4 linked regions of the Homo sapiens genome follow. The protein of the gene in region 2 purifies or fractionates together with the protein of the main gene of each other region. This does not show direct contact. Each region holds a gene or a part of one and is shown on either strand. Other genes may lie near its edges.

The links. The genes of interacting proteins can lie anywhere in the genome.
Region 1: the proteins of MARCHF5 (region 2) and DNM1L purify together in Homo sapiens (affinity purification with western blotting, with the first as the bait; 3 studies listed by BioGRID). This does not show direct contact.
Region 3: the proteins of MARCHF5 (region 2) and SLC25A46 purify together in Homo sapiens (affinity purification with mass spectrometry; 2 studies listed by BioGRID). This does not show direct contact.
Region 4: the proteins of MARCHF5 (region 2) and VDAC2 purify together in Homo sapiens (affinity purification with mass spectrometry, with the first as the bait; one study listed by BioGRID). This does not show direct contact.

Annotation. Positions count from the first base shown.
Region 1 is NC_000012.12:32,685,246-32,690,280, reverse strand, and holds part of DNM1L (dynamin-1-like protein), read right to left. Parts: intron 1-5,035. UniProt on the Homo sapiens protein: Functions in mitochondrial and peroxisomal division.
Region 2 is NC_000010.11:92,307,596-92,312,630, forward strand, and holds part of MARCHF5 (E3 ubiquitin-protein ligase MARCHF5), read left to right. Parts: intron 1-3,539; coding exon 3,540-3,742; intron 3,743-5,035. UniProt on the Homo sapiens protein: Mitochondrial E3 ubiquitin-protein ligase that plays a crucial role in the control of mitochondrial morphology by acting as a positive regulator of mitochondrial fission and as an important regulator of immune response.
Region 3 is NC_000005.10:110,744,952-110,749,986, forward strand, and holds part of SLC25A46 (mitochondrial outer membrane protein SLC25A46), read left to right. Parts: intron 1-1,317; coding exon 1,318-1,395; intron 1,396-3,211; coding exon 3,212-3,312; intron 3,313-5,035. UniProt on the Homo sapiens protein: Transmembrane protein of the mitochondrial outer membrane that controls mitochondrial organization.
Region 4 is NC_000010.11:75,223,741-75,228,775, reverse strand, and holds part of VDAC2 (non-selective voltage-gated ion channel VDAC2), read right to left. Parts: intron 1-5,035. UniProt on the Homo sapiens protein: Non-selective voltage-gated ion channel that mediates the transport of anions and cations through the mitochondrion outer membrane and plasma membrane.

The sequences.
Region 1 (5,035 bases), on a different chromosome or scaffold from region 2:
TAATTCATTTATTTTTAATACTGTATGTGTCAACACACACAGACTAAATGAAACACATCTGTGGGCTCCCAATGTTTTACCTCTCATCTAGATTCACTACTATAAATGGTACTGGCTTCTTCAACAATTGGTTCTATCAGTGCTTTTTCCCCCACCTGGTGATTTAAACATCCCATGTCTGGGTTCTTCCCAGAAAGTCGAGTAGCTACAAGAGTTCTAAAGTGGCAAAAATCACAGCTAGCTTGTTCTGAAAATCGGGCTCCACTGGCACTACAAGGCCTTCAGATTTTTTTCTCCACAAACTCCCAAAGCTGATTCAATAACCTGTATTATATTTACGAGCTAAAGATTTGTGTGCCTGGTCTCAGTGTCATCTTTTAGTTTTAGTTTCTTCCAAACTGCACTGTATTGGGATTTTTAGTGTTTTGAATTTATATTTTGAAATGTGGCCTTTCATGGAAAAGGTTTTGTTGTATTTTCAGCTCTTCCCTAATAATCAGCATCAGTTGGGGTTGAGGAGTTAATAATGTTCATTCATACCACATTAACCAAAGCTGATCCCTTATTCAACTTCTAAGTTTTAATTTTTCATTGTGTAAGGCAGACCTCTCAATTCTTTATTTTGATATTAATATAGTAAACATATATGTCTCAATATTTTACTTTTTATTTTGAAATAATTTTAGATTTACAGAAGGTTTCCTTATATATTTGCTTCACTTATTTAAATAAAATATTTCTAAGAGTGTCCTTAGAAATGTTAATCTTATGGTATTTAAAACAGCTAAACTACGCCGGGCCCAGTGGCTCATGCCTGTAATCCCAGCACTTTGGGAGGGTGAGGCGGGCAGATCACCTGAGGTTGAGACCAGACTGACTAACATGGAGAAACCTTGTCTCTACTAAAAATACAAAATTAGCCAGGCGTGGTGGCGCATGCCTGTAATCCCAGCTACTCGGGAAGCTGAGACAGTAGAATCACTTGAACTCAGGAGGCAGAAGTTGCAGTCAGCCAGGATCACGCCATTGCAATCCAGCCTGGGCAACGAGAGCGAAACTCTGCCTCAAAAATAAAATAAAATAAAATAGCTAAACTACAATGTTTCTACCATATAGCTCAAACCCTCTACCTAATGACAAAATATAAATATGAAGTTTAAACCACTTCATAATTTGTAGTTAATATGTGGGGTGTTTTTTGTTCTTAAGAGACCAGGTCTCACTATGTTGCTTAGGCTGGAGTGCAGCAGCTATTCACAGCACAATCACAGTGAACTACAGCCCTCAACCTCCTGGGCTCAAGCAGCCTTGCCACCAGGTCTCCCAAGTAAAAGGGACTACAGGCACAGGCCACCACACTTGGCTTAAAAGAGTGTTCTTATATGAACTTAATACCCAAAATCCAAACTTTCTAAAATACTGCAGACCTAACAGTCCTTAGGAAGGAATTTTTTCTTGGTTATAAAACTATAGGTCCAGTGCTTTCTAGATCACTAAGAGAGAGATTCAGATATCTGATAAGGCAGAATTATCGTCTGTGAAAATCCCCACTTCTTCCATAAAAGCATGAAAAAGTGATATGAATCTACACATCCAAGAAGCTCGATGAACTCAAAGCAGGATAAACACAAAGAAATACACACATTGAGATAAATTATAATCAAACTGTTGAAAGACAAAGACAAATGCTAAAAGCAGCAAGAGAGAAGCTAAGAGTCATGAACAAGGGATCCTCAGTAAGACTAACAACAGATACAACAGACTTCTCATCAGAAACCATAGGGGCCACAGCAGCTCTGCCTATGGAGTAGCCATTCTTTTATTCCTTTACTTTAATAAACTTGTTTTCAAAGAAAGAAAAGAGAAAAGAAACCATAGGAGCCAGAGGCAGTAAGATAAAGTGCTAAAAGAAAAAACCTCCCCATCAAAAATTCTAACTTAAAATGGTTAAGATGCCAATAAAACCTGAAGCAACCTATAGAGGCAACACAATCCCCATCAAAATCCCAACTGTCTTGTTTACAGAAATGGAGAAGCCAAATCTAAAATTCATACGGGGCCCACACAGTGGCTCACGCCTGTAATCCCAGCATTTTGGGAGGCCAAGGTGGGCAGATCACCTGAGGTTAGGAGTTTGAGATCAATCTTGCCAACGTGGTGAAACCCCATCTCTACTAAAAAAACAAATATTAGCCAGGCATGGTGGTGGGCACCTGTAATCTCAGCTACTTGCAGCCTGAGGTGGTTGGATCGCTTGAACCCAGGAGGCAGAGGCTGCAAGTGAAACGAGATCACGCCACTGCACTCCAGCCTGGGCGACAGAGTAAGACTACCTCTCAAAATAAAATAATATAAAATAAAATTCATATTGAATGACAAGGGACCCCAAACAACCAAAACAATTTTGAAAAAGAAAAACAATGCTGGTAAAGTTACACTTCTCAAATTTTAAATATACTCCAAAGCTACAGTAATCAAAGCAGAATAGAACTGAGAATCCAGAAATAAACCCATATAATAAATCTTTGGCTGGCCAGGCATGGTGGCTCATGCCTGTATTCCCAGCACTTTGGGAGGCCGAGGTGGATGGATCACCTGAGGTCAGGAGTTCAAGACCAGCCTGGCCAACATGGCAAAACCCCGTATCTACTAAAAAAAAATACCAAAAAAAATAGCCCGGCGTGATGGCAGGTGACTGTAGTCTCAGCTACTTGGGAGGATGAGGCAGAAGAATCGCTTGAACTCAGGAGGTGGAGGCTGTAGTGACCCAAGACTGCATCATTGCACTCCAGCCTGGGTGACAGAGTGAGACCCTGTCTCAACAACAACAACAAAATCTTTGCTCAACTGATTTTCAACAATGCCAAGACTATTCAATGGGGAAAGAACAGTCTCTCCAACAAATGGTACTAGGTCAACTGGAGAAGCACGTGCAAAAAAAATGAAATGAACCCCTACCTCATACCATACCAAGATGTACTCAAAATGGATCAAAAGCCTAAATATACAAGCCAAAACTATAAAATAATTAGGGGAAAAAACATTAAAAAATAAAAAAAAATCTTCACGGCTTTGGATTTGTCAATGCCTTAGATATGACACCATAAAGCAATAAAAGGAAAAAAAAAGATAAATTAGCCTTAACCAAAAGTAAAACCTTTTGTGTATTGAAGGACACTAACAAGGAAGCAAAAAGACAAGGCCGGGTGTGGTGGCTCATGCCTATAATGCCAGCACTTTGGGAGGCCAAGGCAGGCGGATCACCTGAGGTCAGGAGTTCAAGACCAGCCTGGCCACCTGGGCAACAGAGCGAGACTCCATCTCAAAAAAAAAAAAAAAAAAAGAAAAAAAAGAACTCTTACAACCTCAACAATAAGACAACCCCAACAAACACATGAAAAGATGTTCAACACCATTAGTCATTAGGGAAATGCAAAACAAAACTTCACACCCATTAGGATGACTATAATCAAAAACAGATAATAACAAATGTTGACAAAGATACAGAAAAACTGCACCCTTCAAACATTGCTGGTGGGAATTTTAAAATGGTGTAGCTGCTGTGGAAAAGTGGTTGCTCAAAAAGTTAAACAAAATTACCATAGAACCCAGTAATTTTACTCCTAGGTATATACCAAAATAACTGATAACAGGTACTCAAATACTTGTACACCAATATTCACAGCAGCACTATTCACAACAGCTAAAAGGCAGAAACAACCCAATTGCTCATCAATAGGTGATTGAATAAACCAATGTGGTTTATACATATAACAGAATATTACTCAGCCATTAAATGGAAAAGAAAGAAGAGGGAGTGACAGCTCAATAGTAGTTTTCTTTCGTGATGAAATTGTTTTGGACCTAGACAGAGATGTCATTATGAATGCACTAAATGACACTGAATTATACATTTTATAAAAGGGCTAATTTTGGCTGGGCACAGTGGCTCACACCTGTAATCCCAGCACTTTGGGAGGTCGAGGTGGACGGATCACCTGAGGTCATGAGTTTGAGACTAGCCTGACCAACATGGAGAAACCCTGTCTCTACTAAAAATACAAAATTAGCCAGGCATGGCACATGCTTGTAATCCCAGCTACTTGAGAGGCTGAGGCAGGAGAATCACTTGAACCCGGGAGGTGGAGGTTGCTGTGAGCCGAGATCGCGCCATTGCACTCCAGCCTGGGCAACAAGAGCAAAACTCCATCTCAAAAAAAAAAAAAAAAAAAAAAGGCTAATTTTATGTTCTGCAAATTTCACCTCAATTTTGTTAAGTTAAAAAAAAGCAGCAGCTCATAATCTATACAAAAAAAGAGAAAAACATAAATTTATCTAAGAACACAAGAAAACAATGCATAAGCAGGAATTAAATTATAGTCAATAAATGCTAAAATGTAGACAGCAGTGCTCATGGAGAAAAAAAAGAGAGAGGGACATCAAACTATGAAAAAAGTTGTCCATAAGAGAAGGAAATGGCATAGGTGTCAAAAAGTGCTGTTTTTCAAATAAAGAATTCCAGAATGATTTAGCGCTTAAAAAAAAAAGATAACAACAAGTGTTGATAAGGATGTGCAGAAACCTGAACCCTGGAGGGGATGTGAAATGGTGCAGCCACGGCTGGGCGCAGCAGCTCACGCCTGTAATCCCAGCACTTTGGGAGGCCGAGGTGGGTGGATCATTTGAGGTCAGGAGTTCGAGACCAGCCTGACCAATATAAGGAAACCCTCGCCTCTACTAAAAATACAAAAAGTAGCCGGGCAGTAGTGGCGGGCACCTGTAATCCCAGCTACTCAGGATGCTGAAGCAGGAGAACGCCTTGAGCCTGGGAGGCAGAGGTTGCGGTAAGCCAAGATAGCGCCACAGCACTCCAGTCTGGGCGAGAAAGTGAGACCCTGTCTCAAAAAAAAAAAAAAAAAAAGGTGCAGCCACTATGGAAAACACTTTGGTAGTTTTTCAGAAAGTTAAACGTAAGAATTATCATATGAATCAGCAAGTCTACGCTTAGATATATACCCAAGAGAATCAAAAATAC
Region 2 (5,035 bases):
CCAGGCGCAGTGGGTCATGCCTGTAATCCCAGCATTTGGGAGCCTGAGGTGGGCAGATCACTTGAGGTAAGGAGTTCAAGACCAGCCTAGCCAGCATGGTGAAACCCTATCTCTACTAAAAATACAAAAACTAGCTGGGCATGGTGGCGGGCACCCTGTAATCCTACTACTTGGGAGGCGGAGGCATGAGAATCGCTTGAACCGGGAGGCGGAGGTTGCAGTGAGCCGAGACCACCACTGCACTCCAGCCTGGGCAACAGAGCAAGACTTTGGGCTGCTGGTTGCCCATTTTTATGGTTATTTCTTGATGATATGCTAAACAAGGAGAGGATTATTTATGCTTCCCCCCTTTTTTTTTTTTTTGAGATGGAGTCTCACTCTGTCACCCAGGCTGGAGTGCAGTGGCACGATCTCAGCTTACTGCAAGCTCTGCCTCCTGGGTTCACACCATTCTCCTGCCTCAGCCTCCCGAGTAGCTGGGACTACAGGCACCTGCCACCACGCCTGGCTAATTTTTTTGTATTTTTAGTAGAGACGGAGTTTCACCATATTAGCCAGGATGGTCTCGATCTCCTGACCTCATAATCCGCCCTCCTCAGCCTCCCAAAGTGCTGGGATTATAGGCATGAGCCACCGCGCCCAGCCTATGCTTCCCCTTTCTAGATCATATAGGGTAACTTCGTGACGTTGCCGTGGCATTTGTAAACTGTCATGGTGCTGGTGGGAGTGTAGCAGTGAGGACGACCAGGGGTCACTCGTGAGCATCTTGGTTATGGTGGGTTTTAGCTGGCTTTACTGCAACCTGTTTTATCAGCAGTATCTTTATGACCTGTATTTTGTGCTGACCTCATATATCATCTTGTGACTTAGAATGCCTTAACCATCTGGGAATGCAGCCCAGTAGGTTTCAGCCTCATTTTACCCAGCTCCTATTCAATCAAGACGGAGTTGCTCTGGTTCACATGCCTCTAATACTGCTATTTCAACTGAAAGCCTAACTCCTGATAAGTACGCACTCTGAATCATCATTCAGCTATCTTATTTACCATAGTTGTGAAATTAATTAGAAAAAAAACTGAAAGTGCATAAGTGCGTGCGTTGTTTGTTTTTTGTTTTTTTTTTTTTTTGAGACGGAGTCTTGCTCTGTTGCCCAGGCTGGAGTGCAGTGGCGCGATCTTGGCTCACTGCAAGCTCCGCCTCCCGGGTTCACGCCATTCTCCTGTCTCAGCCTCCTGAGTAGCTGGGACTGCAGACACCCGCCACCATGCCCAACTAATTTTTTTGTATTTTTAGTAGAGACAGGGTTTCACCGTGTTAGCCAGGATGGTCTCAATCTCCTGACCTTGTGATCCGCCCGCTTCAGCCTCCCAAAGTGCTGGGATTACAGGCTTAAGCCACGGCACCCGGCCAAGTGCATGCTTTAAATGTCAGTTCTAAAAAGTAAATCTGTACAAGTATTTAGGACTGAAATATACTGATGCCTGCAACTTTGAAATGCAGCAAAAAATAAGAATAATGAATGGATGTGTGAGAAAGCAAATATAGCAGAATAAGAATTATAGAATCTAAATGTTGGGTATATGGGTAGTCACTGAACAGTTTTTAACTTTTTTTGGAAAGTTTGAAATTTTTCATAATAAAATGTTTGGGAAAAATAAACCTTATCTAGAATTTATAAGGAATATAATAGCTACACAAGTATTCTCATTAGATCAAAATATGAAATTTGACCTATCTTTTCTGTAAGTCAGAAACAGATTAATGTAGACTATTTCAGTTGGTTCAACCTAGTCCTAACATTGTATTTTATTTTTCTGATGACTGAAATTGGATTAATTTAAAATGTGATTCACCATAATACTGATTAATTATGCTGATGTAGCTATTCTTATTTACGTTTGTGTTAAGAAAGTATGAGACTAAAGAGTCTCTAAATATTCTGCCAGTATTTTGTTGCTAAAATGATACATTCCATTTCCTAGATGTATACAAATATGTCCACAAAATTACCTCAGTTGTGGGGAAAAATATATACTAACAACATCTTAACCAGCCTGTGTGCTAGTATACTTACCAATTGAAATTTTATGCAAAAATCATAGGTTAGAACCCAGTCCTACTATGGGTAGTCTTGGTGGTTGCACAACAGTATGAATATACTTACTGCCACTGAATTATACACCTAAAAAATGGCTAAAATGGTAGATTTTATGCTATGTCTATTTGACGATAAAATTTTTTAAAAAAGAACAAAGTATTTTTGGACAACCATAAGACAATGTGAAGGCCCAGACAGCTTAGCTAAAGTGGGTCAAAAGGGTCAGAATGCTAAACAAATGCTACCTACGTTCTAATTTTACTTAGATCTTATGAAACCTGACTGAATTTGAAAGCTGAATAAAACAACTATTTTGGATATTGATGCCCTGGATTCAGTTCAACTTTTTTTCTGTTCTAATTGAAAAATTGTAATTGGAGCACACAATTGAAATTCATGTTGTTCCACAAGGACTGGAGAACCTCACCCATCTATAATACCTGAGTATATAGTCTTTCCCACTGAGCATAGTTAAGCTAGTTGTTCTGACAGAAGCCACTTATCCAATTAATTAAAAAGTGCACAGTAGGTAACATGCTTTAATTAGCAGTTGTTTCCACTTGTACAAGTTCTAATGGAGGGGAGGAGCGAAGGGTCTCATTGAATTGAACTGTATTTGCCCTGATGGAAATCGATGTCAAAACTTGTGTTAATTGGGAGAAAAACTGAGGAATTACAACCTAATTCCACAAGAAAAAATTACAATTCATGAAGTACCCTTAAAAGCAAAGTGGGAAAATGTTTTAAAATTACCGATCTCAATAGAATTTTATTTTTATTAATATAAGCACCCCAGACTTGATACTTCTAGATTTCAGATTTCAAGCATACACGCCCAAATTTATCATATTGCTATTCTAAAAAAAAAAATCTTGATATATTTATCTCCTTTGTGCTTTTTTGAAAATGTAATATTGTTTTCTCTCATGTTTATACTTTACCGGAAAGAAAAATGGGTTTTTTTTTCCTCAGCTGAAAAATGGAATGAGACTGTATGTGAAATCACTCGTGTAATACTTTGTTTTTCCAAGTTCAAGGGATTGGTGGTGGTGAACTGGGGAGAACACTGAATTTAATATATTACTGTGCTTACTATTCCTCAAAGAATTATTAGGTCTTATAACAAAAACAACTTGAGGTTTGTCTCCTTGCACTCTGGTTCATTAGAGAAGGTGAAGAATTACTGAAAAGATAGAGGAGATTACATAAAAACAAAGTTCAGAAAACATAAGTTCTGTAGAGGAAGACAAGGAAAAACAGAAAAAGTAGAAACTGCTCTAGTGGGAATGTATTGGTTGTTTTGTCTCCTTAGTCTTTTAATATAGGACAGAGATTCTGTAATATAACATAGCAGGCTCATCCCATTAAGTAAGAGCTGCAGTATAGAGGAGGCTGGAGTCCTAAAGATATAAATGTCATCCTTTTCTCTTTTAATTTACAGAAGTTGCTGGGTTTGTTTTGCTACTGATGAAGATGATAGAACAGCTGAATGGGTGAGACCATGCAGGTGCAGAGGATCTACAAAATGGGTTCACCAGGCCTGTCTACAACGCTGGGTGGATGAAAAGCAAAGAGGAAACAGTACAGCCAGAGTGGCATGTCCTCAGTGCAATGCTGAATACCTAATAGTTTTTCCAAAATTGGGTAAGAATATCTTTAAAAACAACACAGATATAGTTGATGTTATTATATATAACTTTATAAGTTCATTTTAAAATGAACCACCTCTTTTTTTTAGGGTGTGAATTTCTATATTCCCTTTCTCTTGTTTCCTCTCTGAATGTCAGACATTTATTTCTTTTGCTAACAGTTTACAGTATCCTTAATATATCCCCAAATTTATCCATTTGCCTGTGTATTAACTGTCTGTTTGATAGAAAGGAGAAAGAACTTGCATACCTGTGTGGATATAATTGAATAACAAAGCTCTAATAAAAAGCTGACTTTTAAAAAAAAAACTAACTTAGCTTAATTATCTGGAGACGGTGTAAGAGAAAGAAAGCAGTAGTATGTTCTAATACTTCTCCTTAATTCTTCCTTTTAAGGAATAAAAGTAGAGAAATTAAATATTTAATAAGATGTGACGTTAAACTCATCTTTGGAATCCAATTTATGTGGTTTCTTTCATGAACCCTGCTATCCCTTTTCTGTGAAGTGGCAGGTAAGAAATAACCAAAGATCTTTGAGAACAGGCCTAGCATGGAAAAAAAGTATAGCAGACTGCTTACAAGAAGCATTCTAAGGCTGCTTCTTTAGCAGCAGTATAACTAAGGCTGATATTTAGTGAGCCTGTTCCATTACAGCCATACAGTTATAAATTGGTGTCAATCTCTTGGTTTGGTGTTTATACCATGCCAGTTGTTAAACATTTTTTTATAACCCTTGACTGTAACCAAGAGGTATAGGAAGGCAGCTTGGGTTCTGGGAAGGTCATAAGGAAAGAATGTCTTTGGGGGCAGAGGGAATTCAGGAAAAATTGGAAATAATTATTATATATATTGTTTTTTATAAGTGCTATTCATACTGAAATCAGACCAATGTTTTTGAAAATGTGGCAACATAAATGCAGATAATGAAGTGCTTTTCTAATATGAGAAGATTAATAATAAGGGCAAACAAAATGTCCTTGGTTCTCTGTTTTTCTCTAACATGCACAGGAAGAAATGATAGCTTCCTTTGAAGGGGAAGTAGTGTAGTAGAGAAAGTAGTGTTTTCAAACATTTGGAATTTGTGGACCATGTGATGGGTCTTCAGTGCATACCACTGATTTTAGATAAACACAAAAGAATAATTCAAAATGTTTTTATTGTAAGATCAAAGAAGTATTTTTAAATCAGTATCAGGAAAAGCAATGATTGTTCACATTATTGTACCACCACATGAATGGTGAAAGACTCACTAAAGTCCAAGTTAAGGTTTCATATTTAACTGATTTCT
Region 3 (5,035 bases), on a different chromosome or scaffold from region 2:
TCATTGTCAAGGATATTACTATATGAAGGTTGCTTTTTTCTCTCTATGGGTAAATGAGGTGAAAAATTACTGTAAGTACGAAAATACAGTTTGATGGTGCTGCCTCAATTTGTGCTAATGAGCTGGGAGTTTTACCTACCATTGCTTTTGTACCATTAGTGAAAATGTCAAGACAGTGAAAAAAGGAAATTATATCTTAGTAATCACTAGGAAAATAATTTTGAACTTGTCAAGCCCCTGAAAGGGTAATGGGGCCCTCAGGAGTCAGTGGACCCCACTTGCAAACTCTGTTATAACCCACTTTTTTTTTTTGTTTGTTTGAGACGGAGTCTCGCTCTGTTGCCCAAACTGGAGTGCAGTGGCATGATCTCGGCTCACTGCAAACTCCGCCTCCTGGGTTCACGCCATTCTCCTGCCTCAGCCTCCCGAGTAGCTGGGACTACAGGAGCCCGCCACCGTGCCCAGCTAATTTTTTGTATTTTTAGTAGAGACGGGGTTTCATCGTGTTAGCCAGGATGGTCTCGATCTCCTGACCTCATGATCCGCCCGCCTCAGCCTCCCAAAGTGGTGGGATTACAGGTGTGAGCCACTGCGCCCGTCCTGTTATAACCCACTTTCTCTGTAAAGTAATGCTTCCTGTATTTGTTAGCTGTTAGAGTTCAAAACAGTATAAATCATTATAAATTAATCTGTTCATGCTTAGCACTGAAAAGTATGTATACAGAAATACCATTAAAGTAGCATTGACTGTATGTGCCACAGAACAGTGTATTTCAGATATATATTTTACATTGTAGTAATATTAACATGGAGATCCAATGGATACATTACATATAAGTAACAAATATATTATTTTTAAATGTTTTATGAAATAATACCATTAGAATGTAATACATTCTAATATTTTATTGTTTCACATAATAAATATTGTTTTGACACTCCCCCAGTTGATTTCATATACCAGTCAGTTGCCAAGTACAGTTTGAAAAATGCTTGCCTAAAATGAACATGAGTTGGGAGATGTAATTCAGTTGTTTAAGGCAAACCAAATATCAAATAAGACCCTCTTTATTATATAGTCTACAGTACTGTGTGTATTATGCATTGGTCTTCAGATTGTATTTATATAACCATACATACTGTACTTTTAATAGGTTATTTAAAGCACTTTTAAGAGTAATTTTGCTTATGTGTAATTTATGTTGACTTTGGAATTAACTTTTGTTTATACTGCAATTCCACCATATTTCTTTCATGGCTCTGTTATTTCTTGACAAAACATTAACAGAAAAAAATAATGAAATATCTTTTTTACAGGTTAATTACCATGCTCAGCATTACCATCTCACTCCATTTACAGTCATCAATATTATGTACAGTTTCAACAAAACTCAGGTGAGAATTTTGTCTGGATTCTATTAAAGGTTTATATAAGTGTCATTTGGGTTTAGTAATCATTAAAGCAAGAATAATTACTTTCAGTTTGGTCAATAAAACATCTTAACTGTTGTAGTAAAACTAAAGTAGCACAACGATATGTTTTTGAATCTTTCAAAATGTAATTTAGCAAAAGTACAATTTAATTTAGCAAAACCACAAAGAGCTGTGCTAAGATGATGTCTCTGCTATCAAGAGGCTCATATTTATTCATGGAGACAAAATCTTTGAAGATTGTGCTGCAGTAAGATAAAGGCAATATTAGAAGTACAGAATGCTGTCAGAATACAAAAGAGAAGTACCTTATCAAAACTGGGCTTGGGCACAGTGTATGGCTGGGAAAAACTTTGGGAAAAGAAAGGCCCGAATTGTGTGCTTCTTGTTGAGAAGTCTGACTCTTCATGATGAGGATAGAGAAAAGGTTTTTAAAGTAGACGTGTGAAGGCAGAAGACAAAGAGAGATCATAATGTTTGGGAATGGATTTAATGGAGTACAATGGGAGCTTGAAGTGGGGGTTGAAGAGTAAGAGAAAGATGAAAAAGTAGCCAGAGAAGTAAGCAGGATCCAGATTCTAAAGCACCTTCTAAGAACTGCACACTACTAGATCTTAAAAGCTACAAGAGTACTGTTGAAGGTGTTTTAGCCATGACCAAAATATCTTGAAGACCTTTGGATTGTTTGGCAATATCTATTAAAATTTAAAATGTACATGTTCTTTCACTTCCAGGAACTTATCCCACATAGATGTGCACATATATATGCAAAAATATATATACAAGGATGTCCTATGACATTGCATATAATAGACTGGAAATGATTAAATGTCCATCACTAGGGTACCAGTGAAATAATTATGGTATATTATGGTGAAACACCTTGTAACCTTTAAAAATAAGAGGGTAGCTCTGTGTATACTAATGTGGAATGATCTCCAGGATATTTTTTATGTTTCAAGATAATACTACCTGTTAAAAATAAGCAAAACAAAAATATTTCTATAACATACACACACAGATATACTTGTATATGCATGGATTATCCCGATAAATTTTAAAACTGCTGCTGAGGACTGGGATGAAAAGGAGACAGACTTTTCAGCTGATACCCTATTGCTTCTTTTTAATTCTATCATGTATATCTATTAATAATATAGATAATATAGATAAATAATAGGAGTATTACTGATGGTATCATGCAAAGGGGCAAAACCAGAGACAGTGAAACTTGTAGTCAAATTGATATAAAGTAATAGTGTTAAGTATGGAGAAGAGCATGGATTTGTAAGATACTAAGGGAGTAGAATTTGTAGAACCTGGGGACTGATTAGATAGGAAGAGTGAGATAAAAATGTTTTCTAGATATATTGTTTGGACACTAGGATGATGAAGCTGCTATCTAGGGAAATAGGAAATACAGCAGAGAAGGAAAGAATTGGTGTGGTATGAGTGAGTATGATTGGGTTAAGTTGTGGATATGTAAGTTTCAAGTTACCTTGTGTCATCCACAGGACAGGACTAGTAGGGAGTTGAATATATAGATATTAGGGATATTTAATAAATTAGTTAATCATTAGGGGTTTTAATTAATAGGAATGTTCTTCTTGGCCTAAGTATAACTTTAAAATGATATAAAATTAATTGTAGTTCTCTACTAATATTTCTATTAGAATAATGTTTTATTGGAAAATGTCTACACAATATCAAGTTTTATTAAGATCTTTTGTGTTTCAGATGTAGGTATTAACAGAAATAACATGAATTTTGTTCAATTTAGGGACCTAGAGCCCTGTGGAAAGGAATGGGAAGTACATTTATTGTCCAGGGAGTCACACTTGGAGCAGAAGGCATAATTAGTGAATTTACACCTTTGCCAAGGTACCATTTTTAGCATTTCTTCAGTATTAGTTTCATGTGGTGATGTGTTTTTAGATGCAGGCGGTACATGTGCAGGCTTGTTACATGGGTATATTGTGTGATGCTAAAGTTTGGACTTCTAATGATCCTCTCATCCAACAATTCTCAATTGTGTAAACATCATACCCAATAGGTAGCTTTCAACCCTTGTCCCCATCCCTCCCCTATTATATTGTTTTAATAATAAATAAAAAATACCTTGAATCTGAAAACTTGTCTGAAGTAACTAAAAGAAAAAACAAAGAATAAAATTAATTATATATTATTAAATTAGTATGTGATAAAGAAAATGTGTCTTGGCTTAGTATCTATTGAGATGTATCTTTCAGCTTCTACTGCTATGTGCCAGCAACTGCCAGCTGAGGAACAAATGTGGGTATGTGAGCAATTCCCGCTCTTTAAGTATTCATTTAATGAAGGAGACACATGTAAGCAAGAAGAGGTAACATGTCCAATGTCACGGGGTTGGACAGTCTAGGTAATAAAAGAAGTGTCTTATGTTTGGAATATTGGGTATGTATGAAATTGAATATCAGGAAAAGAAGCTGAGGTGCTACATTAAAATACGATTGTGCCTTTTTAAGTTTATTCTCTATGGGTTTGGAATGTGTTTCTTTTTTTAATATATAGATGTTCTGATCAAGATATATTCAAATGGCAGTATAAAATAAATGGAGTTGTATAGACAGATTTATGGAGATCTATTGTAATAATCTAGGCGAGGCTGAGAAGGTTCTGAACTGTGGAACAGAACAGAAAGGGATGAGCTGGCTAGACATTTCTGAAGTATAGTCGATGGTCATTATGTTAGCTTGGTAATTGGAGATAGGAGAGAATGAGTTGTCAGTAGTGACTGAGATTTCTAGATTGGAAAATGTTAACCAAGATGGAGAATTCAAGAAGAAGAAAAAGTTGGAGTAGGGAAGAAGATAAAGAATTTATCTTTCAATAAATGAAGTTTGAGATTCTTGCAAGACATTGAGGGAGAGGGACATGTCTCATATTTGGTTGGAACCATGGATCAGAGTAAAAAAAAAAAAATAGAAAATTGAAGCACAGGGAGAGCTTTGGGTATTGTGGCATAAAAGTAGCAGCTGAAGCTTAGGATAGATGAAATCACCTAAGGAGAAAGCATAGATTAAATGAATAAAATGGACCAAGGACAGAATCCTAGGCATACATGTGTGCCGTGTGTGTGTGGGAGCGGTGGGAAGGGGGGTAGTTGGGGGAGATAATGAGAGAAATTAGAGAGGGCCTCAGACAAATTGGAAATAGCATAAGATGTAGGACAATCATGTTCTAGAAACCAAAAATGGGAGAATTAGAAGTGTAGATACATTTGAGAGAGAGGGTAGAGAAATTAGGGAAATTTGCTTTTGGGTCTCTCTTTTCTCTGTGAAGCAGGATACAGGGTTATTTGGTGAAAAAATGATAAGCATTGGGGTTGTAGTAGAAAAGCATGAGAGGAATGATACACATTTGGGACAGTCACAATGATGGGTAACAAAGGAATCTTACAAAGAGTATATGAAAGGAATGTTAATAGGTAATATTGGAAATTAGAAATTTTTAAGGTGCTATTTGGCATTACTCTGATTTTCTATATCAGCACTATATTTTTGTATATCATCCTATCGATAATGTTAAAGGCTTTGGAATGGTTTGTTAATCCAAATTTATTCTC
Region 4 (5,035 bases), about 17 Mb from region 2:
AGGGCTACAATATAAAGGTAACAAACAGACTATGTGACCAAAACAGATCTCCAAATGATTCGATGTCTATACTCTTATAATGTGTAACATCCAAAGAGCCCAATCCAGAGAAAGAAATGATGTAACTATACAGACACAAACCACATCCAAAACACCTGTATTCACTTGGCACTACAGCCAAATATTCATGAGCTACCAATGACCATCTAAAGAAAAAAACAGGCCTGGCGCAGTGGCTGACACCAGTAATCCCTGCACTTTGGGAGGCCAAGGCGGGAGGACCACTTGAGCCCAGGAATTCAACAGCCTGGGCAACACGGTGAGACCCCTGTCTGTCTGTACAAAATTTTCCTAGCTTGGTATGATGGTGCACACCTACCCAACTACCAGGGAAGTGGGGGGTGAGTGGAAGGATCTCAAGCCCAGGTGGCTGAGGGCACAGTGAGCTGTGATTGCACCAGTGAACTACAGCCTAGGCAACAAAGCTCAAAAAAAAAAAAAGAAAGAAAAATACCTCACTAATGACCATCTTGTACCCTACAAATAAGAGCCTCAGACAGCTGGATAGACATTCCTATTATTGGCCAGGCGCAGTGGCTCACGCCTGTAATCCCAGCACTTTGGGAGGCCGAGGCAGGCGGACCACAAGGTCAGGAAATCGAGACCATCCTGGCTAACACGGTGAAACCCCGTCTCTACTAAAAATACAAAAAATTAGCCGGGCGTGGTGGTGGGCACCTATAGTCCCAGCTACTCGGGAGGCTAAGGCAGGAGAAAGGCGTGAACCCGGGAGGCGGAGGTTGCAGTGAGTGGAGATCTTGCCACTGCACTCCAGCCTGGGCTACTGAGCGAGACTCCGCCTCAAAAAAAAAAAAAAGAAAGAAAGAAAGAAATTCCCATTATTGGCCGGGCTGGGTGGCTCATGCCTGTAATCCCAGCACTTTGGGAGGATCACAAGGTCAGGAGTTCAAGACCAGCCTGGCCAAGATGGTGAAACCCCGTCTCTACTAAAACTACAAAAATTAGCCAGGCACGGTGGCAGGCGCCTGTAATCCCAGCTACTCGGGGTGCTAAGGCAGGAGAATCACTTGAATCCGGGTGGCAGAGGTTGCAGTGAGCAGAGCAGAGATCGCACCACTGCACTCCAGCCAGGGTAACAAAGTGAGACTCTGTCTCCAAAAAAAAAAAAAAAAAAAAATTCCTATTATTTAACAGTAAGAGTTAAACCATGAAACTGTGATAAGGAGTAGAAAAAATAAACTCAGTTTCTCCCTCTATACTCTCATAAGGCCTAGGGAGAATTTCCCACACATCAAGCAAACGATTCTGCAGCAGACTCCAGCTAGATGTTCTCTAATTCAATTCTGATACTATCTACCTGGAGAGAGAGCATCGGATCACACAGGTTCAGGGCTCAGTTTCATAAAACTGCCCCGCCCTCATTTTCAATGCTAACTGAAAGCTCCAGGTTCTTTTGCCTCTGCTTCTTACAGACTGGTTATAAACTGGGGTTCCCACAACCCCCTGGGGTTCAAGTAATTTCCTAGGGTGGCACACAGAACTCAGGGACTAACACATTTACCAGTTATATAGGATATTTTAAAGGATATAAATGAACAGCCAGATGAAAAGATACTTATATATCTTTTCCTTTATAGGTGAGGTCTTGAAGGGTCCCAAGCACAGGAGCTTCCATCCCTGTGGAGCTGGGGTGCCCCACCCTCCCATGACATGAATGTATTATTGTTTACCTTCCTGAAGGCCCCCTGGACTCAGTCCTTTGGGTTTTTACAGAGACTTCATTACAAAGGAGACTTCATTACAAAGGCACGATTAATTAAATCACTGGCCACTGGCTCAACCTTTAGCTACTATGCCCTCCCCAAGGCAGAAGGTTTGTTCCCTAGCAACCAGCACCCCCTACCATGTGGCCATCTAGGGACTATCCAAAAATCACCTCATTAACATAAGTTCAGATGTGGTTGAAAGAGGCCTGTTAAAAATAACAACATAGCCCAGGGCGCAGTGGCTCGTTCCTGTTACCCCGGCACTTTGGGAGCCAAGGCAAGTGGATCACCTGAGGTCAGGGGTTGGAGACCCACCTGGCCAACACGGTGAAACCTCATTTCTACTAAAAATACAAAAATTAGTCGGGCTTGGTGGCAGGCACCTCCAAACCCAGCTACTAAGTAGGCTGAGGCACGAGAACTGCTTGAACCCGAGAGGCGGAGGTTGAGGTTGCAGTGAGCAGAGATGGTGCCACTGTACTCCATCCAGCCTGGATGACAGTGAGATTTCATTAAAAAAAAAAAAAAAAAAAAAAACCCACAAAAGACTGTCTTTCACTTTTATGCTCTGGAGCTGTTTCAGGAACCGAGGACAAATGGCCAAATATCTCAACAAAATACACTCTTACGGCTCTAGTCACTTGGGAAATTGCAAGGGTTATAGAAGCTGTGAGCCAGGAACTTGACAAAAACCAAAATATATACACCATAGTATCATAGGCCACCCCCTGGTTTCAAACAGGGATCCCTTACAGCAAAAAGGTCCATATATCTGTCAAGGATGTTTACACTTGTTGCATTTATATAACAGACATATCTACAAGAGTACAAACACAAATATGCCTATCATCTGGAGAAGCTACTGTGGGATAGGGATAGGTTTAAAGAAGCAACTAGGATGGGCGCAGTGGCTCACACCTGTAATCTCAGCACTTTGGGAGGCTGAGGCGGGCGGATTACCAGAGGTCAGGAGTTTGAGACCAGCCTGGCCAACACGGCGAAACCTCATCTCTACTAAAAATACAAAAATTAGCCGAGTGTGGTAGTGGGCACCTATAATCCCAGCTACTCAGGAGACTGAGGCACAAGAATGGCTTGAACCCAGGAGGTGGAGGTTGCAGTGAGCCGAGATCACGCCACTGCACTCCAGCCTGGATGACTCCGTCTCAAAACAAAACAAAACAAAACAAAAAAAACCTACTCGGTCCTATGAAGAGAAAAAAAAATAGCTCAGCAGTATGAGGAATGTGAGGTATGCAAAGTTTATCAGGCCCAGAGAGACATGAGAATGAGACTTTAGTCACAGGACACACCCCCATGCCTAGGGGAAATTGTTTAAAAACACTTTGTTCTTTTTTTCCTTCCTTGTAGTTTCCAGGCTCGCTGGCAAATATCTAAAGTGTTACTGCACAATGTGACCCTCACCCATTATCTTCATGTTCCTGGAATCTGTGATACAAAGAACAATGTATAGCCAATCACTAATCAATGTTATTTCTGTAAACCAAAGAGAATTCCTGCCAAACAACTTTGTATCAGCCCACATCCTGTCCCGAATTTTTGGCCTTTAAAAACCTGTTTGTAACAAGGGCCAAATGGAGCTCAAATCCACTTGGATCTGAGTCTGCTGGGCAGCTGTCCTCATTATGGTGCAAATAAATTCTTTAAAATTGTATTTTGTGCCTTAGTTTCTTCCTTTAGGTTGACAGAAGCCATTAGAAACATCTTTATCATCTTGTACCAGCTTTCTTTTCCCTTGATCTACTGTTATTTGTACCTTGTGCAGAACTATTCAGGATGGAAATCAGCTGATAGTGAGATCCAGTTCCTCCTCAGGCCAGTCACTTTCCATAGGTATTATATCCTGAGGAGGCTTCAACTCAATTTCACAATACATATAATCATCAATCAGTATTATAAGACTTATTTACACAAGGGAGTTTAATCTGCCAACAATATTACCATATGGCAGTATGAGCATGGTACAAAAAAAATCAGTTTCGTTACAGATCAGTAAGAATTAGAGATATTTGCTTTGCCTTTCCAACAGAAATCTACCCTTCCCCATTTGTCAGCCTTTATCTTGATTAATAAGCCTGACTACTGCCCCAGGCAATTTCAGATCACATTTCTCAATGTAATCTCTAACTTCTGACTTTTTAAATTTCTCCAAACTGGGCAAAATACAGCAAATACAGGTCTTAGGGGTACTTTTTACCCTTGCAAGGTGGCTTTGAGGCTGGTGGCCAAGGCTTAAACCAAATGAAACCTGAGCTTGGTCTAGCATCAAGGTACAATCCAGCACTCTTTCACTTTGATTTTAGCTATCACAAATAACAATAATCAAGGGATTGTATATTTTGTTTGTTTCTTATTGTTTGCGTTTCCTTATGCACCCAGTGAACCAACTCCCTTGGAGTTGGATCTATCTTTGAATTCCACTGGTAATTTTTAAGTACCTGAGCACAGCACAGTTGTGGCTCCATAGCAGGGGTGACCATCTGACCACCCAGGAGTCAAAAGTTCCTCATTTCCCATCCATTTATCCTTTTTCTTCCTAAACCATGCTTCGATGAGCCACTCTAGCTAGAGCCACTCTAGCAAATCCCAATCCTGACATCAATTCTGAGGATACAGAAAAAAACCAACTCAGTTTCTCCTACTATTCTCTCACAACACAGAATGCTTCTGTGACCACATGTGTGAGGGCTTTCCTCACACACCAAGCAAGCAATAATTTCTGCAGCAGACACTGGCTAAATGTCCTCTAATTCTACCTGGAGACATCAGATGCCACAGGTTAAGGGCTTAGTCCCACAAGACTGCCCTCCTCCCACTTCAGATGCCAACTGCAAGCCCCAGGTTGTTTTAACTCTGCTTCTGACCTGGCACCTCTAAACAGAGGTTCCCACAAGCCCCTTCTTGGGTTCAATTAATCTCCTAGAGCAGGTCACAGAACTCAAGAAACACTTTATTTACATTTACCAGTTTTAATAAAGGATATTACAAAGGATACAGATGAAGAGATGTACAGTGCAAAACATAGGAAGGGACACAGCTTCAATGCCCTCTCCAGACATGCCACCTTCCAGTAACCTCAGCTACCTAGCTCACTGACCTCTGTCCTTGTGGGTTTTCATGAGGCTTCATTATACAGGCATGACTGATTAAACCACTAGCCATTGGTGAACAATTAAACCTACAGCCCCTCTCCCCACCCCCTCTAATCACACCTTGGTCTCTCCACT